Homo sapiens: one gene and its partners. The protein of the gene in region 1 interacts with the protein of each later gene in a pairwise test. Each region holds a gene or a part of one and is shown on either strand. Other genes may lie near its edges.

The links.
Region 2: the proteins of STRIT1 (region 1) and KCNK5 interact in binary tests that used the Homo sapiens proteins (3 or more experiments, as listed by UniProt).
Region 3: the proteins of STRIT1 (region 1) and MFF interact in binary tests that used the Homo sapiens proteins (3 or more experiments, as listed by UniProt).
Region 4: the proteins of STRIT1 (region 1) and SLC14A1 interact in binary tests that used the Homo sapiens proteins (3 or more experiments, as listed by UniProt).
Region 5: the proteins of STRIT1 (region 1) and SLC38A1 interact in binary tests that used the Homo sapiens proteins (3 or more experiments, as listed by UniProt).
Region 6: the proteins of STRIT1 (region 1) and EDA2R interact in binary tests that used the Homo sapiens proteins (3 or more experiments, as listed by UniProt).
Region 7: the proteins of STRIT1 (region 1) and TMEM51 interact in binary tests that used the Homo sapiens proteins (3 or more experiments, as listed by UniProt).

The regions. Positions count from the first base shown.
Region 1 is NC_000003.12:155,290,884-155,294,987, reverse strand, and holds the start of STRIT1 (sarcoplasmic/endoplasmic reticulum calcium ATPase regulator DWORF), read left to right. Parts: upstream 1-1,304; 5' UTR 1,305-1,355; coding exon 1,356-1,368; intron 1,369-3,949; coding exon 3,950-4,044; 3' UTR 4,045-4,048; intron 4,049-4,104.
Region 2 is NC_000006.12:39,191,476-39,194,975, forward strand, and holds part of KCNK5 (potassium channel subfamily K member 5), read right to left. Parts: intron 3,286-3,500; coding exon 3,119-3,285; intron 2,863-3,118; coding exon 2,694-2,862; intron 281-2,693; coding exon 1-280. UniProt on the Homo sapiens protein: K(+) channel that conducts voltage-dependent outward rectifying currents upon membrane depolarization. Voltage sensing is coupled to K(+) electrochemical gradient in an 'ion flux gating' mode where outward but not inward ion flow opens the gate.
Region 3 is NC_000002.12:227,328,251-227,331,750, forward strand, and holds part of MFF (mitochondrial fission factor), read left to right. Parts: intron 1-427; 5' UTR 428-539; intron 540-1,355; exon of another isoform or gene 1,356-1,495; coding exon of another isoform or gene 1,496-1,533; intron 1,534-2,375; coding exon of another isoform or gene 2,376-2,415; coding exon 2,416-2,596; intron 2,597-3,500. UniProt on the Homo sapiens protein: Plays a role in mitochondrial and peroxisomal fission. Promotes the recruitment and association of the fission mediator dynamin-related protein 1 (DNM1L) to the mitochondrial surface.
Region 4 is NC_000018.10:45,750,601-45,753,020, forward strand, and holds the end of SLC14A1 (urea transporter 1), read left to right. Parts: 3' UTR 1-1,577; coding exon of another isoform or gene 1,578-1,622; 3' UTR 1,623-1,920; downstream 1,921-2,420. UniProt on the Homo sapiens protein: Mediates the transport of urea driven by a concentration gradient across the cell membrane of erythrocytes.
Region 5 is NC_000012.12:46,185,804-46,189,043, reverse strand, and holds part of SLC38A1 (sodium-coupled neutral amino acid symporter 1), read left to right. Parts: coding exon 1-74; 3' UTR 75-3,240. UniProt on the Homo sapiens protein: Symporter that cotransports short-chain neutral amino acids and sodium ions from the extraccellular to the intracellular side of the cell membrane. The transport is elctrogenic, pH dependent and driven by the Na(+) electrochemical gradient.
Region 6 is NC_000023.11:66,618,579-66,622,078, reverse strand, and holds part of EDA2R (tumor necrosis factor receptor superfamily member 27), read left to right. Parts: intron 1-3,500. UniProt on the Homo sapiens protein: Receptor for EDA isoform A2, but not for EDA isoform A1. Mediates the activation of the NF-kappa-B and JNK pathways. Activation seems to be mediated by binding to TRAF3 and TRAF6.
Region 7 is NC_000001.11:15,156,747-15,160,246, forward strand, and holds part of TMEM51 (transmembrane protein 51), read left to right. Parts: intron 1-3,500.

The DNA of each region.
Region 1 (4,104 bases):
TTTTGTTGCATAAACAATACGTAGTTTTTCTGCTTACCTGACATAGCCAGACATTTTTTCAATATTAAATAATATATTGAGAGAGAGACTGAGGAGAGAGATGACAACTTGACATAAATGATATAAATGTGCCAGATTCTTGGCTGCACACTCTAATCTATAGGTACATTATTTGAGGTAGAAAGTCAAATGTTCTTCTTGCCTGTGAGAGTGGGAGGATTCTGAATTCATATAATAGCAAGGAGTTCAGTGTCACTGAAGTTATCACTGCAAATGGAAGAGTAGAGAAATAAGGGTTTTTAGGTGTCTAAACAAAGAGTTGGGATTTTTATTGTCTAGGAGATGAAGAACTATTGGTGGATTTTTGAGCAGTGATGGAACATGGTCATTTGCAAGGCAATATCACTCTTGGAACTCTGTGGAGATAAATTTGATCAGGCCAGACCTGCCTTTACAGGTCTTAATCTTATGTCAAATTTTTTTTGGGAAGATGCTCACAGGGTCACTCTGCAAAACTTTTCCAGCCAGATCCCCAATTTAAAGTTATTCCAATGAGAATATAGAGAATAGTCTAGGTCAGTTACATAAACCAGTTTGGACTTTGAAAAATGAAATGTCCTATTTTTATACATTGCTAATAAAAACAACAAGCTTATGACTGCTTCCTAAAAATTCTAGGCGACGTCTGTATTGTTTTAGTTTCTAGTACATTTATATTAACACTTTTTGTTTTAGAATAGTTCAAAGAAAGGGGCACCATTTCATTTTATGTTTTCCACCTGTAAAGTAATAAAGAACTGTCTACATTTCATACAGACTTTCATTTCATCTTTATGCGACTCCCATGAGTAGGTATTATTATCCTCATTTTAAAACTAAAGAAGCTGATTCCCAGGTTAAGCAACTTGGCTTTCATTACAGAAAGAGCTGGAATTTGAACCCAAGTCTCTCCAACATCAAAATCCTTTCTTTCTAATATATCACCCTTCTCCTTGATAGCACTTGTATAGGTGGAATGTTGTTTTTCCTCTGTACACCTTCTTTATAGAACATTTTCTTCATGTTACCTAAAGGCATGGTGCAAATTAAAAACCTGCGAATATCTGCATTAGGATAATTCAGCTTACCTAATTGTTTAGGTCATGTAGCCCCTCGTTTCCTCCATAATAATAGAATAAAGAGCCAGAGGAGTTCTGCTTTCCCATGACTTACATCACTCTGCAGACAATTGGCAGCCAGGAGACGGGCAGCTGCCGCAATCTTCAGATTTCTCTCTATTTAAAGTTCAAAGAGACGCTGGATAACAAAAGAAAGAGGTAAGCGTGGCCTGACCTAGCCACCCACCAACAGGAATAATGGCTGAAAAAGGTAAGATTTAAGGCATAGGATTCTCTTGGCAAAAAAAAAAAAAAGGCTTCTTGACTTTGGTTCATTTATGTTTCTTGGTGTTTCCCAGTCACTCTAAAAAATGTGATATCTATGCTAAATGACCATTAACCATATATGTTAGTGTGGCTGCAAAAATGCATTAATTATGTAATCTATGGATCAGGTCTATAGGTTATGAATAATTTTAAAATGATCAACAAAGGAAAAGAGCTTAATTTTGTTAATACTTATTTTGAAAGGTGAGTTAGAAATCAGTTCTCCTGATTTCAATTCTGAGCCAGAATTGAAGACAGTTAAGTTCTGTGTCAGACCTGCTAGTAAATGGCTATGTGAGTTTGCAGAAGTCCCTATACCTCTCTGAGTCTGTTTTCTGACAGTAAAATGAGAATATTGGGCTCAGGCATCTATTCCACACCTAAAATTTTTGTTCCACATCTAACTTTTTTCTGGTTTTTAAACATTTTTTTGTATTTATATTTTATAGTTATATAAAATAATTGATTCCAATTTGTCAAAAAGTTGAATATATACTGTATCTAAGAAATGGTTTTTAAATATTAAACAGGAATTTTTGCTTTGAATCTTGACAATGACCTTGTGAAATATGCATATCATCATCATCCCCATTTTATAGATAAGAAAATGGAGACACAGCAGTTTAGTAACTTGTTCATGATCGCTAAAGAGTGGTGGCACCAGGTGTTTAACCTGGACAGTCTTTTCCAGAGCACAGTGTCCTCAAGAACACTTCCAGCTGTAACTACTTTGATATGCTCAGAACTGGACAAGAGAGAAGCATTTTAGAATTACACTTCATGTTTAAGAGATGTTTTGTTCTTATTTGTGCTAGTAATGTAAGTGACATATGCAAAGTATGTTGTGCTCTTACGTATTTCTACTTCCAAACAATTCCACAGGTATTAGTAAAGTTGAAAACATTAGTGTTAAAAAAACAATGGAATGTATACTTTGGGTGTTAAAATGCACAGTTAGTGCTACTGGTACTATTTTACAAGGAAAGTAAATAATGAGATACTTTTAGGGCTTTGTGATATGTAAATTTTATTAAAATATGCATGTATAAAATATAAATGCACAATTAAAGGGTTAATATTAATTTTCAAATTCTTTGAAATTGGGAAAAATATAAAGCCACATACCTAGACAGTTCAAAAAAATTACTGCTATGTACTTCCATTGTAATGGTACCTTAATTCATAAAAAGGCTTTCGTCCAAATGAGAGTAAAGGGCAACTCATGTTGTTTGCTTTATCCTTAAGCAATACCACATGTCAAGTAAAGAGAAGAGTTTTCCATTTAGTGCTTAATGCCTTATACAAGGTCACAGTGAGATGGAGAAACAAGAAAAGCATGTTGAATTTTGTCAGTTAAGAGAGACTCTAGCATTCTTGGAAAAATTGATTTAAAGTATTAAAATTTATTTCAACTTCAGAAAGTTTGCTTTTATAAAAGTGTCTTCTAATTTTAAATGTGTCTCATCTCCTGATGATTTTATTTTAATAGCATTTTTAAAAATTTCACATTTTAAAGTGATGGAAATTGTAATAGGAGTATAATTGCTAAGAATATGCATTCTCTCTTTTAACTAATGGCATAAGATCTAATTATGCTTTGCAGTTAAGAATATATCTGAGTCCTTAACACAGGGACATTAATTCCATAGAATGTTTTTCTGCGCTCTTTCTAAATCTTTTTGTGTGATGTAGGTGTGGATTTCTGTGTGTATGCCTGTGTATGTTTGCTTGAAAGAACAAGAGTTACATGCAGTGCATACTTTAAAAAAGATACTTGTATAAATTGCTTTTTACAGGTAAGAGTACAAATAGGAGGCACAGAAGGAATCATATATAACAAACGCCATTTATGTGTGTGTTGGATTATTACTGCCCATTGATTCAGGTTCAGTGCTGGTTGTTATACTGAACAATTTTTAAACAATAGAAATTCTTTTCTGTAGTCAAGAATGGTTACATAATGTATGATACTTTCCTTTTCCCTGTGATATTTAAAATTACATTCAGCTATTGAGGCCAAGGACAGTTCTCAATACCTTTCCTTGTGTTATAATTATTTACTTTAGTGGGAATTGCCTCAGAGTTGTATTAGATTGTTTTTTATATAAATAGCTGCTGTATATGTTATTGCACAAATGCATGAATGTGTTCTGTATACACTAAACACACACGGTGGTTAGAGTTTACAAAGCTTTGCACATATGTTATGTCATTTGATGTTCAAAACTATTCCAGGAGGTAGAGAGCACAAGTTTCATTATTCATATTTTACCAGTAGGAAAGTTCAAGCCCAGAATTGCCAAAGGTCACATAACAGTAAAAGACCCATGGTTTGATTCAAAATACCCAGGGTTTATGACAGTCTCACGTATTCTCTGTAGAAAAGAAAAAATAATTATGTATGGGTATAACTAGAGAGTGTATGCTTTTTTCTTAATGTTACCAAATTCCTTTTATTCTCTTGACACAGAAAATTTAATATGAAAATGACCAATATAATCTGTTTTCTACGGTTTATTTTAAAGCGGGGTCTACATTTTCACACCTTCTGGTTCCTATTCTTCTCCTGATTGGCTGGATTGTGGGCTGCATCATAATGATTTATGTTGTCTTCTCTTAGAAAGGTAAGGGTTTTAATAATTGAATGTTTATTTATAGTCTAAATTACTCCAGAAACAAT
Region 2 (3,500 bases), on another chromosome or scaffold:
ATGAGGTCGTTGTAGGTCTCTTCCTTCTTGGAAAGAAAGCTGAAGATGTTGACGTCCTTGGAGGCTGTGCTCCCCTTCACCTGCAGGGCCTTCCGGGAGTGTGGGGAGCTCTCAAAGGACTCCTTCCGTCGCCGCCGCCGCTTCTTAATGGCTTTGTGGACTTCCACAAACATGCTCACCTTCCAGTTGACAAAAAGGGACAGCCAGGCCAGCCCCAAGTAGATCCAGAGCTCCACGAAGTAGCGGTACAGGGCGTGGTAGTTGGCGCTGGGGTTCACACCTGAGCGGACAGGCAGTCCAGAGGTCAGGAAGAGTTAGCAGGGCCCGGGAAATGTGCAATGGCCAATGCTGTGTGATCTGAGCAGGGGTCAGGCCAGAGCACAGGACGGGGGTGCAGTGGGATAGAAAGGGGCCTGTTCTAGACCCTGGACTATCCCATCTTCCTCAAGGGCTTGGGCCTGCCATCATTCATGACCCCATCCCAGTCTCCAGCCTGTCTCTGAGTCTCGGTTTCCTCAACTAGAAACGTCAAGACAGGCCAGGCATGGTGGCTCACGTCTGCAATCCCAGCACTTTGGGAGGTCAAGGCAGGTGGATCACTTGAGGTCAGGAGTTCGAAACCAGTCTGACCAACATGGTAAAACCCCAGCTCCACTAACAATACAAAAATTAGCCAGGTATGGTGGCGGGCCAGCTACTCAGGAGGCTGAAGCAGGAGAACTGCTTGAACCCGGGAGGCAGAGGTTGCAGTGAGCCAAGATCACACCACTGCCACTCTAGCCTGGGCAGCAGACAGAGACTCCGTCTCAAAAAAAAAAAAAAAAAAAAAAAAAGTCAAGACAGTGACTCTTTGAAGGAAGCTAAAGGGGCTTTGGGGGACTGGCAATGTAACCGACACACAGGTCAAGAAACAGTTCATGAGTATTTGCCTTTCTGTTAATTCTTCTACCATCCCCAGCTGTTCTGCGTATATGATACAGTTCACTTAAAAACGGAATGGATGGATATTACACAAGGGAGCCCCCAGCACCCTCCAAGCTGGGGCTAGACTCACACTGGTGGATTACAAACAAGGCTGGTGGTTAGGTTGAGATGACCCAGGAAGCACCCACCGTGGCAAGAAACGCTGAACCATTTTTATTTTCATTGAAGGTCTGGTCTGCCTCCCTGACTTCCTCAGATCAGCTCTCCCTTGACCTGGAGGAGGGCTCTGTCTGCTCCACATCCCCCTCCTGCTGCAGGGAGCCTTCTTGGCTTACCCCCTACAGCTCTGAAGGTTCCCCCTACACTCCAGGATTATTTGAAATGTCGTTGACGACTACATGTACAGGCATGTTGACCTGTATTCCATTTGCCCCCTCGACTAGATACAAGAGCAACTTACAGAAGGGACCTGGAGGAAGGGGGCTACCTCTCTCATCAGACTAGAGGTTCCTCCAGGTGCTGTAGCCCGGTCAGTTCTCCTCCCACGACCGGGCTCAGATAGCAGGTGCCCTGAGTGGTCCTGTTAATCCTGCTCAAGGCTCTCAATCACAAGCAGAGTTTCATGATGACAGTAATGAGGGCACACACTGATATAGCCAGGCCCTACCCTTAACACTCATGAATAGTAATTATTATTTTTACTAATTTTACAGAAGAGAAAGCTGAGGCAGGGTTTGGTGTCTTGCTGGTGCTGAGAAAGTATGGCTAAGTGTACATCTGTATTTCCCTAATACCAGAGGCACCTCCTTAGCCTGCTCTGGGCCTCAAGGGCTGGACAATGGCAGGGTTGTGCCTTGTCCACATGTACTGCCCAGGACAGCAGGCCCGGACTTGGCAGGGTCAGGGGAGTGTTTGTGCCTCTCTTTCCTGTTCCTCCCCCAACTCAGCCAACTGCTCCCAGATGCCACATACATCAAGCACAAGGCTAGTGGCCTCCCACTGCCCTCTGGGCAAAAGGGAGGGGGTACAGAACAGAGGCCTCTGGAGCAGAAGTTGAGGTCACTGGGGTGGTGGGTCAACAGGGTCAAACAGGGTGTCAAGAAGATTAAGAACCAAGATGCTGTGCAGGCCACAAACACAAGTACATGTGTGGCTGGGGCCAGCTGGTAACAGGCCTTCAGACAAAGGGGCCAAAGAACCTCATCACTTCCCTGGATTAAGCAGGGGAGGAGTAGGAGGGAGTGTCAGGGCTGGGGGCAGGGCAGCTGGGGAGAAGGCCTCCCTTGTCTTTAAGCTGCTACAGCAGGAACAAAGCCCCAGGCCTCTGAGCCATGCCTTCAGGACACCTCCCTCCACTCTTGTGAAAGATGAAAGGCTGCTGAGGGCGTGGAGTGGGTGCTGGTGGGCTCAGGGGCTCCCTGGGTAGCAGGTACCAACCGTGCAGGCAGAAGGCCCTACTTGCAAGTCCCCCATGAAGCCAAGCTCAGGAGTCATGGGAGAACTGAGGGAGAGGAGATCAGAGACTGAGCAGAGAGGAAAGGAGGAGGAAAAAGGCCATGTCTGAGAAAGGGAACCAGAGAGAAAAGAGTTTTTTGTCATTACTCTGGGTCTTAGTTTCCTCTTGCAAATGGCAGAGTGGGTTGAGAATCCCACTGGGTAAGAGAAGTGCCCAGAACATGGAACCCTACCTAGGGCACCCCCAACATAGGTCTGTTGCACTGAAACCAAAGAAGCAGAAAAAGAGGTGGGAGGCAGAGGCAGGGACTCACCGGCCACAAAGTCACCGAAGCCGATGGTGGAGATGGTGATGAAGGAGTAGTAGAGGCCCTCGATGTAGTTCCACCCCTCAGTCACCATGAATACGAAGGGTGGGATCACCAGGTGGACTAGGACGCCCCACACGATGAAGATGACTGTGCACGTGATCTGCGCCTTCCGCTGATGGGGAGCAGGAGGCCAAGTCAGAGAATAGTGGAGACTTGGAAACCCAGCAAAGGCACCCAGAGGGCCAGGGAGGCAGCTAGAGGAGAAGCTAGCTGGGTACCCAGCCTGACCCGGGAGGGCAAGGAGCTCTGAAACTATCCTCTTGCCATCTGTCCTTACACCCTTGGTCCAATTCCTAGAGGCCTCCTGTCCTCCCCTCACCTGTCATGGTTCCCCCATCTCTGCCCAACACCCAGGGTAGGGGACATACCAGACTCACACCTCTCTTGGTAAGGAACTGCCCTAGTCTCTTGGCACGTCCCCCGAAGAACTTGCCCAGGGCACTGATCCACGTCAGGCAGAGCGGCACCCCGAAGAGACCATAGAAAACACAGAAGAGGCGACCGGCGGGGGTCTTGGGAGCCACATTGCCATATCCTGAGGAAGGAGAGAGTGAGGCCAAGAACAGGAGGGGTGGTCAAACCAGTGGGCCTTGCTTCCAACACACACACAGCCCGTTCTCTAAGATAAATTGATATTGATCTATTGTCAGTACTTAAGTAATGATATTTCCCTTGATCATACTCTGATCATGATCATTGATAAAGCAATTATGATGACATGAGCTGTATCTCCTCCATCATACAAGGAGC
Region 3 (3,500 bases), on another chromosome or scaffold:
GTCCCAGCTATTCAGGAAGCTCCATTGCAATCTAGCCCGGGTGACAAAAAAAAAAAAAAAAAAAAAAAAACCAATTCATTTGTTCTTCTTTAACATATATGTGTACCTATATGCATATATATACGTAAGTATTAGATTCATTTAAACTTACGTATTTTTCATCTGCCACATTTTTCTAAATACAAATCAGAAACAATGACAGAGCTAGTCTTTTATATTGCCTTAACTAATGAATAGTTGTAGGACCCCATCTGTGGAACTAAGATTGGTGGTAAGCTTAATTTTTTTCTTTCTTTATTTTCTTACTGGTCTCTTGATGTCAGGTTGTGCATCTTTGTGACTGTTACTATTTGGAGAATTTCCAGTAATGAATCCCTAATAGTGGTTTCATCTAGTTTCTCAATTAGCCCCTGTTTTTCTTCCCCAGGGACAAAAGTGGCTCTCAATCCAGCACATGCACATTGAAGCAAGTTAAAGGATTTAATATGAAGCACAGAAGCAGATAGTGCCAAATAGCAAGCAGTAGTTGTTACACATTTGTGAGTAAAAATGGTCCCTTTTGGCTTACTTTCTTAGTCTTTAAATCGTCTGCATGCCAAATCCTTAAAGATCTATGTCCCCAGAGATTTTTTGATAAAGAATAAAAGATGTGAGTTAGCAGTCATAGTCAAACCAGTTGCTGGGGCTGAGCGTCCTGAGCAACCTCTAAGAGCTCTCCTAGGCATCTCAGTGAGGCGGGGGCTTAGGGTGGGGCTATATCTCCAGCATGGAGTTTAGGAAATACCTTAGCCATGGTAAAGTCATGTATACTGTCTTTAACTTTTTATGTCTTTAATTTATATATAGTGTCTTTGCTGAAAATTTAGTGTAATTTCCATTTGAAGTTTACCCTAAATTTTGAAGTTTATTTTTATTTAAAGAAACCATTAGACGTCAAATATGTAGGCTGCCTCAGTTACATTTACTTTTTACCCTTTGTATTCCCTTCATGATTTATTCATTTGGGCTTAGTCTTAAAAAAGGATTTTTCCCCTTTGGAGTATAATGATTAGAGGAGTTTTATGGCAGTATTGTTTTCTTCGAATCTGACTTCACATTTGTATATACATTTGATACAGCTTCTCTGTATCCTGTTTGCAAAATCATAAGACAGTGACTGTGCTTACAACTGTCTTTATGATTTTTGAGGTATAGAAAAACTCTTCTTAGGATAGATTTAACAATTGGTTTCTCAAATCAAGCCCTAAGCCATGTTCAAATCCAAAAGTCATTTTACGTAGATATTTACTTTTATTCATAGTTTTCTTATGAAATGAATTGTTGAAATACTGATTTTTATTCTTTCTTTTTTACAGCTGGAAAAGCAGTGTCCGTGTTGTTATGTACACCTCCAAAAAAAGTTCAAATGTGTAGGGGAATTGTTGTGTAAAGTAAACTGAACTGCAGGGTAGCAGTATTTTAATAGCTATTATAGACCTGTATTTACTGTATTTAAATGAGTAAAGGAACAAGCAGTGACACATCACTAGGAAGGTCAGTGAAATTTTATTCAGTTGAGCTGGTATTATAGGTTTGAGAGACAATGGCTTTAAAGCTTACTGCCGTAGGCTAACCATGCTCTTTTACATTTTTATCAGCTTTTGTATTGGCGGCAACATTCTTTCTACTGCATTAAAAAAAAAAACACATGTAAATATGATATTAAATACAGATTAATAGTGTAAAACTTTCAGTCCCTCCAAAAATGAATACAAACATGAGGATTTATTATTACAAATTCTAAATTTGGTATTCATTGCATCTCAGTCATTAGGAGAAGTTTTAGTTTGTATGATGTGATTTTCAGGGAGTTGCATCTTCTTTTTTAGTAAATTCAGAGTTAATGTTATGCATCTGTCATTTAAAGGTTTTGAATAACAGATGCATTTGTCATTTAAAGGTTTTATTTTTTCATGCATGACAGTAATTTTTAATTTTATATTTTTAAAGTCCAAGCAGCTTTCCCTCAAATTGATGAGGAAATTTTAAGTTTAAATTTTATTGCAGGCATTTTTTTAGTTACAAGCAGCATGCATGTTTACGCAGAGAGTATGTGTGTATGTGTGTGTACACATTTGTGTTGTAATTCTATAATAATTTAAAAAATTTGCTCCTAAGCAATATCCTCAAGGTACAATTTCAGCTGATAATTAAGAAGGCATTTTGTTGAGGAAGACATTTTCTTTCATCTTTTATTTTTGCTTTGTATGTGTTCAGTACTTGCAAATGAGAAGTTTCCTTTCGCTCTTTCTATAAGGTATTGTCTTCTAACTTCACTGCGTAGAGGAGACTGACATTTTAACAGTCAGCCCTGTCTTTAAATTTTTCTCCCACAGGGTGAGCAGGGCAGCATTTCCTTCTCCCACTGCTGCTGAGATGGCAGAAATTAGTCGAATTCAGTACGAAATGGAATATACTGAAGGCATTAGTCAGCGAATGAGGGTCCCAGAAAAGTTAAAAGTAGCACCGCCAAACGCTGACCTGGAACAAGGATTCCAAGAAGGAGTTCCAAATGCTAGTGTGATAATGCAAGTTCCGGAGAGGATTGTTGTAGCAGGTATTTCACCTTTACTTAGAAGGTTGCCTGTTAAATCTTTGTTTTATATGTTTCTATGAAAACTTTTGAGTTTTTCTAAATGTTATTTAGAAAAGGAGTTGGAAAATGCAACTTTATACTTTTGAAATTTCTATTCATTATTATAGTCTGAATTGCAAACAGTATTTTTTAGTAATTCAACTAATTATTGAGGTTTTACACACATAAAATGTATACATTTTTAAGTGTGTACTTGATGAGTTTTGACAAAAGTGAACACCCATATAACCACCACCACAGTCCAAATAGAGACCATTTTTGTTACTCTGCAAGGTTCCTTTGTGCCTCTTTCTCACTCAGTCCCTACCCCTCAACTCTAGGCAACCATGATCTCCTTTCTATAGCCAGAGAATAGATTTGTCTTTCCTAGAGTTTCATGTAAATGGAATCATAGAGTATATACTCTTATCTGTCTTCTTTTGTTCAGTGTAATGTTTTTGAGATTCTTCTGTTGTTGCATATATCAGTTGTTCATTCAGTTTTATTGCTGGGTAATATTTCAGTTTGGATACACCATAATTTGTTTTTCCTTCATCTTCATTCGTTGATTGCTTTTTGTTTGAAGCTGTTAGGATTAAAGCCACTGTGAATATTCAGGTTCAAGTCTTTGTGAGGACATATGGTTTCATATCTTTAGGAGTGAAATTGCTGGATTATATACAAGTTATTTTCAACTTTGAAAAACTGCTAAACTGTTTTCCAAATTCTTGTACTATGTTGCATTCCATCAGTGATGAATAAGTTACAGTTGCTCCACATCCTTGCCAACATTTTGTATTGTCAGTCTTTTTAATTTTAGCTGTTTGAGTGGGCGTGTAGTGCCATCTTGCGATGTTAATTCTATTTCCCTGATTATTAATAATTT
Region 4 (2,420 bases), on another chromosome or scaffold:
TTGTCAATCAAAATTATTCTGTATTGCAACTTTTCTCAGAGATTGCAAAGGATTTTTTAGGTAGAGATTATTTTTCCTTATGAAAAATGATCTGTTTTAAATGAGATAAAATAGGAGAAGTTCCTGGCTTAACCTGTTCTTACATATTAAAGAAAAGTTACTTACTGTATTTATGAAATACTCAGCTTAGGCATTTTTACTTTAACCCCTAAATTGATTTTGTAAATGCCACAAATGCATAGAATTGTTACCAACCTCCAAAGGGCTCTTTAAAATCATATTTTTTATTCATTTGAGGATGTCTTATAAAGACTGAAGGCAAAGGTCAGATTGCTTACGGGTGTTATTTTTATAAGTTGTTGAATTCCTTAATTTAAAAAAGCTCATTATTTTTTGCACACTCACAATATTCTCTCTCAGAAATCAATGGCATTTGAACCACCAAAAAGAAATAAAGGGCTGAGTGCGGTGGCTCACGCCTGTAATCCCAGCACTTTGGGGAGCCCAGGCGGGCAGATTGCTTGAACCCAGGAGTTCAAGACCAGCCTGGGCAGCATGGTGAAACCCTGTATCTACAAAAAATACAAAAATTAGCCAGGCATGGTGGTGGGTGCCTGTAGTTCCAGCTACTTGGGAGGCTGAGGTGGGAAAATGACTTGAGCCCAGGAGGAGGAGGCTGCAGTGAGCTAAGATTGCACCACTGCACTCCAACCTGGGCGACAAGAGTGAAACTGTGTCTCTCAAAAAAAAAAAAAAACAAACAAAAACAAAAACAAAACAAAACAAAACAAAACAAAACAGGTAAGGATTCCCCTGTTTTCCTCTCTTTAATTTTAAAGTTATCAGTTCCGTAAAGTCTCTGTAACCAAACATACTGAAGACAGCAACAGAAGTCACGTTCAGGGACTGGCTCACACCTGTAATCCCAGCACTTTGGGAGATGGAGGTAAAAGGATCTCTTGAGCCCAGGAGTTCAAGACCAGCTTGGGCAACATAGCAAGACTCCATCTCTTAAAAAATAAAAATAGTAACATTAGCCAGGTGTAGCAGCACACATCTGCAGCAGCTACTCAGGAGGCTGAGGTGGAAAGATCGCTTGTGCACAGAAGTTCGAGGCTGCAGTGAGCTATATGATCATGTCACTGCACTCCAGCCTGTGTGACCGAGCAAGACCCTATCTCAAAAAAATTAATTAATTAATTAATTAATTAATTTAAAAAGGAAGTCATGTTCATTTACTTTCCACTTCAGTGTGTATCGTGTAGTATTTTGGAGGTTGGAAAGTGAAACGTAGGAATCCTGAAGATTTTTTCCACTTCTAGTTTGCAGTGCTCAGTGCACAATATACATTTTGCTGAATGAATAAACAGAAATAGGGAAGTAAACCTACAAATATTTTAGGGAGAAGCTCACTTCTTCCTTTTCTCAGGAAACCAAGCAAGCAAACATATCGTTCCAATTTTAAAACCCAGTGACCAAAGCCTTTGGAACTATGAATTTGCAACTGTCATAGGTTTATGGATATTGCTGTGGAGAAGCTCAATTTTCAGTGTTTGAACTGAACCCTTTCTTGTTAGGGAACGTGTGAAAGAAGAATTGTGGGGAAAAAAAAGCAAGCATAACCAAAGATCATCAGCAGTGAAGAATCTAGGCTGTGGCTGAGAGAACCAGAGGCCTCTAAAATGGACCCGAGTCGATCTTCAGAACAGGGATCTACCATGCAGGAGCTTCTTGTGCTCACACAAATCTGTAAATGGGAACATTGTACATTGTCGAATTTAAATGATATTAATTTTCTCAAGCTATTTTTGTTACTATTTTCCTAAAATTGAATATTTGCAGGGAGCACTTATACTTTTTCCTAATGTCTGTATAACAAATTTCTATGCAAGTACATGAATAAATTATGCTCACAGCTCAGTTTTGTATAATGTGCCATTTATAGCCATCATGTATATGAACAATCACAGGCATAAGTAGGTATCGCTTATGTTGCACGTGCTAGAATCCTTATTCCTTTCTTACACTTGGTAATAGCACCAGATGTATAGTTGAGTAAACCCTTTTCAATTTCAGATTGGCAGGCCCATCCCCTTGGGTATCCTCTCAACTATCCATTATTCTTTCAACTCCTGGATGAGAATGAATAACTGAGGACAGTTGTTCAGGACATGCTCCTAACACTTTGAGATCAATATCCCAAGAGCCACTTCTATGCATTCCCAGACAGGCCCTGGGCACCACCATCAGGGCTGACCCTGGGCCACAGCATGCCTCAGGGGTCAGCTCTCTAGGACCAGCCACTTGTCAGAATGTTATCCCCTGAGGCTGAAGCCACAGCCATGCTTGTCTCTTCCACAGAAGCACTTCTCTTCCACACCCTTTCACCACAGTTGGCAGATTTGAAAGAAAATATGGTA
Region 5 (3,240 bases), on another chromosome or scaffold:
TGTTCTCCTTGGTCAGCATTCCCTTGGTCATCTATGACTGGGCCTGCTCATCGAGTAGTGACGAAGGCCACTGAAACCCGCCGAGAAAAAGAAACATCCCTGTTGTCTGCTCAGTCAAGTCCCCACACATCAGCAATCTCTCACCACTTCTTTTGCAAGTTTACAGAAGCAAACAGAAATGTACAGGATACTTAAAATGGAATAACTTTTTGGTTGCAAAACAGAGACATGGTTCTATAATGCTTCATGTCCCTCCAAGATTTGAGATCAATTTAGGGATTGTGAAATTTTTTTTTCAAATTTCATACAATCATATTTCCCAGTACTTTTCACAATCATTTTTTACCCATCTAACTCTATGTTTTGTGGCTTCCCGGTCTCTTAGAACTTTGAAAACATGATATACAATAATGTTTATTTATTATACATCCAGATTCTGAAATAATTTTCCTACTGATGTTCAGCTCACACTATCTGTACCTTTTTAGAAGAGAAAAGAATCTTGAATTGTATATATTTATTTTGCTTTACAGAAAAAAATGGTTTCGTAAATAATTTGCCTATTTTGGTTAACATAGCACATGGAGATAATCATCTGAAAGTTATAGGGCACTGCCACTGCTGAATCAGAGCATGCCCAATATTTGAGGTGGCTCTGATTTCCTGGCAGCTGAACTCGGGTAGTCCAGTGGCCTAGCTGGTACCACATCTATTCCCATCCAGAGACATTCTCTGGCAAGTGTTCTCAGCTGAAAAGTGGTTGGGGATGATTCTTACCTTGGTAATTAAATGAAGCTACACATTTGGGTAATCTAGCAAATGAAGTATTTTTTCCCTCTTGGCAACTTGTGTCAGAGTTACTCTGGTCTGAGTCAACTTTCGCTGGGGAAAACCTATGGAACCTACTGCAAAAAGATTGTCCAAAATGCCTAAGAAAATACTCCTCTGATGCATTTAGCCTTCAACCCTACCTGTCTTGCTGAAGGGAGAAAAATGTTTTAGTACATTATAGGCCCAGCAGCTTTTATTCATGTCCACCAGCTAGTTGCACAGAGAATCATGTGTACCTAACTAAGGATGATCTAGGATAAGTAACTCCTGTTTTATATTGAGTATTTTAGGGAAGTCTTTAAAAGACTTGTTTTATATCTATAAATCTAGGTTATTACAAATACAAGAATTTTGTACCTTAAATAAGCCTCATTTCTATTTCTTCTTCATTAATTCTCCATCTAGTCTTGTGAAAAAAAAAAAAAAAAAACCCTCAGAGATAGTCTTTGTGAAGAGCTTCTGACAGAATCACTGAGTACCTTCCTTCCCCCAGATGAGGAAGACAAGGGGGTCTCAGTGTCTGTGCTGTCTCCTCTTCTCTTCCCCAACCAAGGACTGTGCCATTACTGCCCGTCTCAACTGTCCATGCAGGAGGACAGAGTTGCCTGGTACTCTTACCCTTGTCCCTCTCCTAAAGGGAGCACAAGGAAACTGAAGAGACTGAAAAAGAAGAGAGTTTGTAGCTGAAAAAGAATAGGGATAGCAAGGAAACCCAGAACTGCATTCCCCTAAGTGGGGCCATCCCATGTGATTGAATTGTCCATAGCTTGCCTATGGTGAGAAATGTGCATGCTCCGTGAGCTGGTCTCTTGAAACAGGACTTATGCTTCCTCTATATTCTGGTTAAATTTTCCAAACACATAAGTTCACTGAGCACAGATTTCTTATCCAGAGACAAGTAGAATCTAACCGCAGACTGTTGGCAGAGTTTCCAGGCACTTAGCCATGTTCCCTTCCTGACTCAAATCCCCAAAGGCCTTCACTCTCACTGAGAATCACACTACTGTCCCATAGATAAGGCAGGCATTGAAGCACCTGTCGTGATCCTCTAGGGGGGAGAATGAAAGGTTATTTCCTGCATTGCATCATCATAGCTTTTAATATAATGCTACAGAATCATATCCACATTAGGTTAGAGTTCAGATATTTGGATATGAATACCTAACCTAGCCATATCCATGGCCATCTCTGTTCTTTTCAGCAATGTTTTCCATATTATATTAGCAATGACAGAAACAGAACAAGCCAAGATCCAGTCAGTTCTTGGGAGCTTGTCTAGAGCACCAAGTAATGAAATAGCCAGGTAGTGGGATGACTGTACCTTTAAAAATACATAATTTAGTTTGCAAGCTATATTATGCTACTTTCTATTTTCCTTGTTACTTTATAGCAATTCATTTTACCCTCACAAAGTCAATTTAGAACCTTATCATTAACTGGGATGTGTAGTGATATTTTTGGGCCTCTGGGTTTCATGTGTCAATACAAGGAATATTTATTTAAAATAGATTTATTTAGAGGAGGCACAGTGTTGTTGATCTGTGTGACACCACCCATATTTTTAAAAACCTTTGTATGTTTCTCTAAATTTGTTGTTGACTGAATATAATAGACCCTACCATAATTCGTCAAATATCACTGATTAGTTACATCCTTTGTGTGAGATTAGCTGTAAAGTATACTGCTCTTATTCTTATTCAGAATAGTTAATTGGTAGCCAAAAATACATGTATCACAGATGTTAGGTCGAATTTAAACAGCACAGTCAAGTGCTATGGAAGTTTTTCTGCTAAATTAGTAGATTAAAGAATACTATACCCTAGGCATGGGGAGCAGCACGTTTTCCTTTGGTAGGTAGGATCTCTATACTAGTGAACAGTGCCAGTTCCACACTTTGGACTTAGAACTGTTCTCTAGTTATTGTAACACAGAATACTGTCAATCCCTAATTTACTTAATGTTACTTATTGGAAGTGGGGCTGATGAAATACGCACAGGAGGGAAATCTACTGTGTTTAGGCACAGGCAGCCCCAGTGTATAAGGAGATCATATTCCAAAAGGTTGTCAGTTGGTTGTTTGCAACCTGGAATGTATTTTCCTTTAGAGACCAGGTTATCCATGGTGGTTAGGCCCCTAGAGCAGCTGGAAAAGATGATCAAACCAATAGGTTAGCTGACATCGAATAATGTAATAGGTTTGCTAAAGAATCTAACCATCAAATATAATATTGTTTCCAGGGAGGGTGTTTGTTCAGAGTTGCCTGTTAGTAGAATCTGGACTGTCCATCCCAGCCACATCCCACCTACTGGACAGTAGGGGTAGAGATGCCACCAGACTACAGGTGACCAGATTGGCCTGAAACATGGTGTCCAGTAAAAACGGGGAGGAATAAGTCCATGACTGCTGGA
Region 6 (3,500 bases), on another chromosome or scaffold:
CTTGGATAAGTTTGGGTGAGAAGTTGGATGAATCAAATTATATTTGGAGGCCTGTGTAAAAATATTCATAGCAGCTTTAACATTTTTTGGGGGGCTAACTTAAGCAATATCCTATTGGAATAATAAATTCAAAGTATTAAATAAAGCTAAAGAACCATCTTTTAAAATGAGATATAATTCACATACTATAAGATTTACCTTTTTAAAGTGTATAATTCACTAGTTTTAGCATATTCACAAAGTCACACGACCGTCACCACTGTCTAATTCCAGGGCATTTTCATGACCCTAGAAAGAAACATACCTATTCAGCAGTCACTTCCCATTTCCCTTTCTCCCCAGGCCCTGATATCCACTAAAGCTAGTTTATGATTGATTGCCTATTCTGGACATTTCATGTAAATAGAATCATACAACATTTGTCCTTTTGTGTCTAGCTTCTTTTATTTAGCATAATGTTTTCAACGTTCATTCATGTTATTGCACATGTTAAGCACATCATTCTTTTCTCTGACTGAATAATTTTCATTGTATGGATAAACCACATTTTGTTTACCATTTATCAGTTGATGAACATGTGGATTTTCCCCACTTTTTGGCTATTATAAATAATGCTGCTAGGAACATTTGTTTACAGGTTTTTGTATGAACACATGTTTTCAATTCTTTTGGGTATTTACACTTAGGAGTGAAATTGCTGGGTCATGTTGTAACATGATGTTTAACATTTTGAGGAACTGCAAAATTAATTTCCAAAGGGGCTGCATCATTTTGTATTCTCGCCAGCAATACACAAGGGTTCCAGTTTCTCCACATCCTTCTCCCCCAGGCTGGAGTGCAATGGCACGATCTCGGCTCACTGCAACCTCTGCCTCCCGGGTTCAAGCAATTCTCCTGCCTCAGCCTCCCAAGTAGCTGGGATTACAGGTGCCTGCCACCATCCCCGGCTAATTTTTGTATTTTTAGTAGATTCAGGGTTTCACCATATTGGCCAGGCTAGTCTTGAACTCTTGACCTCAGGTGATCCACCTGCCTCGGCCTCCCAAAGTGCTGGGATTACAGGCGTGAGCCACCGTGCCTGGCCGGCTATTTTTTTTTTTTTTTTTTTTTTTTGGTAGTGGATATAAAGTGCTGTTTTATTGTGGTTTTCATTTTCATTCCCTTTGTTGCTGATAACACCGACCATCTTTTCATGTGTTTATGGGCCATTTGTAAGTCTTAGAGTGATATCTATTCAAATTCTCTACTCATTTTTAAATTATCTATCTTTTTTTGAGTTGCAAGAGTTTTCTATATATTTAGATACAAGTCTCTTATCAGATATGTGATATGAAAATTTTTGTGTCCTATTATGTGGATTGTCTTTTCACTTTCTTGATGGTGTCCTTTGAAGCACAAACATTTTTAATTTTTAAATTTTGTTGACATGTCATTGTTCTGTTTTTCTCTCTTGTTGCTTGTGCTTTTGTTGTTATATCTAAGCAACTACTTCCTAATCCAGTGTCACAAAAATTTACACCTATATTTTCTTATAAGAAAAACATTAATTACAGAATTATTATGTTTTCTTGTAAGAAAACTTTTATAAGAGTTTTATAGTTTTAACTCTTACATTTGGGGATTTAGTCTATTGTGAGTTAATTTTGTATATGATATGAGGTAGGGGTCCGATTTGATTCTTTTGCATGTGGATATCCAGTTTCCCCAACACCCTTCTTTGAAAAGATTTTTTTTCTCATTGAATTTTCTTGGCATTCTTTAAAAAATCCATTGACCATAGTATAGCAACTCAATTTATAATGGCCTCAAATTAAAAGCAGTCCAATGTTTGCCAAGAAAAATATATAAATTGTGGTATATCCATACAATAGGATACTACACAACAATAGTAATTAACAAATGTTGCTACACAAAACATAATGGATAACTATCACAGACATTATAGTTATCAAGAGAAACCAGAAACAGAAGAGCGCATCTTGTATGATTCAAATTTATGTGAATTTCAAGGACAGGTATAACTAATTGTAGTGATAGAAGCCAGTGCTGTAATTATCTGGGGAGGAGTCGATATTGACTGGGAAGGGGCGTGAGGGAGCCTGCTGGGGTAATAGAAAAGTTCTGTGTATTTATTTGGGTGGTGTTTACATGGGCATGTACACAGTAAAAATTTATTAATTTATTTAATCTTTATGCTCCTTACTATGTATATGTTGTACTGCAATCAGAAACAGACAAAAAATCCCAGCATGTTACCCACATGAATTTTTAGAGCACTTCCACATTACCTCATCTGTGTAACTTCTGAGTTACACAGATCAGATATTCTCTGGGCAAGTTGGGAAGTTGGAGGAAGTATTTCAGGGTGTAGCTGACAAACAGTACAACTGAGTGGGTGATGCGCTTTAGCAGAATCAGAACCTCATCATGTGTTATACTCCATGGGATTGAGACAAGAGGCATCTGCCACTTCCCTTCCTCTCCCCAACCCTCAGTAATGTAAAGAGAACACAACCCCATGTCAGAGTTGGGGTGAAAAAAATGTTCTTGAGCAGCCATAACCTTAGGTTGTGGAGGTGAGAGGGACTGTTCTGTGGAAAATCATGTGCTATTTCATAAAGTCCATAATAACATCCTCACTTATTTGCAAATCTGATTTTATTTCTTTTTCACTTCCATTTCAAAGGCAATTGTCTCGGAAAAGTTTCCAAACGTTTGTTGACCAAGTTAATCCTATACAGAAATGCCTTGATGAAAAAAATCCAGCAAACACTTAGAACAATGTTTCTTTTAGCCAAGGTGGCTTAGGCACTGAGGGTATCTTGGAGAATCTTTTCCTTAAGCATCAGGTCACTGGTGGTTGCGATTAATGAGGAGGAAACTGCTATAGTGGCATCCATCTTAAACATGGCCTTCATGCTCCAGCTGAAATGGTCAATGAAGAAGCTTGGGTGCCTTTCCTTTTTCTTCCCCACACATCCCAAAAATGACAAATGTGCACTCCTTTTACTATAAACCTCACTCTTCTGAAGAGGAAAGAAGAAAGGGAACCTGCTAATTACCAAACGTCTCATATGTATCAAGCCCTATACTTGGTCCCTTAATATGTATTATTGCATTTAATTTTCTAAATTACTGTGCAGTATATTATTTAAACATCCATTTTGCAGATGAAAAAACTGATGCTGACAAAGGTAAAACTATTTGTTTGAGGATGCAGAATTAAAATTAAAACTCAAGTCTACATGTCCCTAACTAAGAGCTTTGCTCTTTTTTTGATGGATGTGAGGTTACTACTATTGTTTGGAAAGTCATTATCTTAAAGAGAAATGATCTATGTTGCTAGATTCATATGCATAGTTAACCATAGTCCAGGGAATGTAGCATGTTGATAAGCTAACAAATAGTAAGCACTGTTGAGGTACACACTCTGTGCCAGGTGCAGGGCTAGGCACTGGGCATGCAGTGGTCTCTACTCTTGGGAACTTTATAGGTCTGTA
Region 7 (3,500 bases), on another chromosome or scaffold:
AGAGAGGGGATGGGACTTACCCAAGGACACACAACAGTTCAGCAGCAGAACTGGGACTGGAACCCAGCCCTCCTGACTCCCTTCTAGGGCCCTTTACTTTAACCCAGGAGACCTGGCCACATTCGGGACCAAGACTGTTTTGGGCCCCAGGTTTCTCAACCTCTCAGTCTTTCAAGCGGCTTCATAGAGTTGAGCTCCTCCCCAGCCTGGACAGGTGGTGCAGCCTCCCCTGCCAATGTTTTATTCTCCCTTCCTCTGGATTGAGCCCTCGCTGCCATGGCCACCCCTCCTGGGAGCTCTTGCTCCTGAGAAAGAAAACAGGCCGTTTGTTTGGAAGAAACAAGCCACCTGTTTGGTTTCCCAATACCAGGCCACACAGCCCTGTCCCTCCCAGACAGCCCCAAGATGCTGACCAGAGATAGCCCTCTGAGGGTCTCTGCTGAGCTCCCCTGACCCTCGACTCCTCCCCTCAGCTCCCGTCTCAAGACTGCTGGTTGGTCCTCACCTTCTGTCTGTGGTGTTTACTTGGGCGGAGCAACCTAAAGTCTCCACATTCTCTCTTGCCCTGGATTTATCAGACTTAGCAGCCCTTAAACCTGAATGCGTAGCTTCAGATCTTAGAATATCGGGGCCAGAGGGATCTTAGCCATCAGAAAATCCACTCTGCTTATTTGACAACTGGGGAGACCAAGACCCAGGGAAGAGGAGATTTGCCTGAGATCACAGCCAGGACCAGAACCCGAGGTTCCAGAGTTTGTCTTGAATGATTTTGAGGATGATTCTTGAAAAACAAAACAGGGCACCCTCCCCCTCCAAGATCCCCTTTCTGTCTGCACTTCACACTACCAGGTGTTTTTGTGGCATCCGTGGTGACATGGTCAGGAGGAGTAAGGGCCAAGGGTCCTGAAAGATGAGGTGTGCACATTGAGGAGTGTGTCTGCGCATTTCCAGGTCCTGTCTGTTCAAACTGGCATTAACACCACGGCATGAGCTAGTGAGTGCATTTATCTGGCACTCCCTTAGCCAGACTTGATAATGTGTCTTTGGATGGCAGGCTTTTAAAGTTGTCTTCGTCCACAGATTACAAAAGAAGTAGGTGCTCCTTGTAAAAACGAGCAGATGACATCGTGAAGGCTGGCGACCACTGTTAATATGGTGGCGTTTTATTCAGGTTTTTGTTTGCTGAGCTGTTTCATGTCCTGGTTTGTTGTTGTTGCTTTTGAAAAAATAGAGACAAGGTCTCTGTGTGTTGCCCAGGTTAGTCTTGAACTCCTGGGCTCAAGTGATCCTCCCACCTCAGCCTCCCAAAGTGCTGGGATTCCAGGCAAGAGCCACTATGCCCAGCCCGTATCCTGGTTTTTCAACTCGTCATTACAGTGCCTGTTATCTTCATGAGATAATGTGAGTGACTTCACGCAGGATCTAACCTGTAGGTCTCACGTGCTTCCACCCCTTGATGGCTAGCAGGTATTCCCTTGGCCAAAACCCTGTGACGCTGTGCAAAGTGCAAAGACGTTTCCAATTCACCACTGTGGGAGTCCAGAGGGCCGTTTTTCTGCATCACCATGGGGTTTGGGAAAGCAATTCTCTCTGAACTCTTAGAAATGGAAGCCACGGGCCATCTGGGTGTGATGCGTGTGACCCAAATTCATACAGAGGGAGGGAGACAGCTTTGTTTCTTCTGACTTTTATGTGTTTATTTTTGCTGTGTTTGTTTTAACCCATCCAAGTGCCGCCACCCCACCATCACTGCCCCTTGCCCCAAATCTCCCTGGGATTAGGCATGGGGTTAGGCAAGTTGCAGGTCTCTAGAAAAATCGGTATTTGGCATGCTCATCTCCAAACCCTGGCTCTTGCAGAGTAGGCGTTTCAATAGCAAAGATGTGCAGAGAATTTGTTTCCTAATCGGTGATTCAGGTAGGACACCCCATTCTGGGAACAGGATGGGGCGGGGTCTCTGTCTCTCTCTACCAGGATCACAGCTTTGTTAATGCCATAAATCATCAGTACTGGAAGTACTCGTATCTTGGGGATTTTCTAAGCTCATGTTCACAGAATGGACAGCCACTTACTAGTGGATTTGAGCATCGTTGAGTGGTTTTCCGCTGGATTTTTAAAAGTGAAGTAGAAGACAGTGGACTAGAAAATAGCATGCATTTCCTGTCACGAGAAATATTCCTTAGTAAAACTTTCAGTTATCTGTTTGTGGATGTGCACTGAGTCACTAGGTAAAAACGTCTCTCCTCCTGCATGGTAAGAACCTTGCGCAATGTAGCTCCGGTTATACTGTGATCCTGGGAAACCTTGGATGGGTCCTAGAAGCAACTCAGGGGTTTGCAGGGACAGAGCTGAGTGGTGGAGGCAGGGCCGACAGGAAGGAAGCTCGGCTTATGCTAAGGATACAAAACATCCACTTTTAAAACTCTGTGACTTTAAAAATAAAACAGAAAGTTGGAAGCCATTGTTCGTCTAGCCTCCTCAATTCCTAGAAGAAACTGAGGCCACAAAACAGAGGCTGGGGCCTTTGCTGCAGGGGAGGTAGCACTCAGGCCTCACATTGAGGAGAATCTGCAGATGTAGACCCTTGACCCCTCCACAAATGAGCGACTCAAAACACACGTTCACGGTGCAGCCTGTGACCCCCATAGGCCTCACTGTTGCGTGCACTAGGAATTCATGTTTATCCTAAAGCCTGTCGCTCTCGTGCCAACAACCCAATTTATATTGCTGAGATGCACAAAGCATTAATTTTTTCAATGCCACATTTCAAACAAAGAAGAGTTAATAACCCTGTTCTGGCATTTCTTTTTTTGTTTTGTTTTGTTTTTTGAGACAGAGTCTCGCTCTGTTGCCAGGCTGGACTGCAGTGGTGCAATCTTGGCTCACAGCAACCTCCACCTCCCAGGTTCAAGCGATTCTCCTACCTCAGCCTCCCTAGTAGCTGGGACTACAGGCATGCGCCACCACACCCAGCTAATTTTTGTATTTTTAGTAGCGATGGGATTTCACCATGTTGGCCAGGATGGTCTCGATCTCTTGACCTCGTGATCCGCCTGCCTCGGCCTAGGCATGAACCACCACACCTAGCCTTCTTCTTTTTTTAATGTCCCCAGAGCTTTACCAATGGAAGCTTCCCAGGCCCATCCCCTGGCCTGAGAGGCCTTTGAGATGATAAGCCCAGGGTCACCAAATCCTGGCAGAACCTGGCAGAATGAGAACTCACCACAGGGAGCAAGTTCTTTTTTTTAAGATCGTGGACTCACATGATGTGCAGTTCTGGATGTCTCCAGGAGGTTTTGCTATTTCCTCAACAGGTAAAATTAGGTGGCTCTAAATCTTGGGCAATTTTATGTCTTTTCCATGTTTTTCTCCTCACATGTGGTCTAGGGAGGGGTGTAGAGAAGCAGGTGGAATTTACTTGCCTTACCTTATCCTACCTTTTCCTGGAACCCACAGGTTGGGCCTGTGCTGGTTAGGGTGTGGGGCATGATTTGTTGATA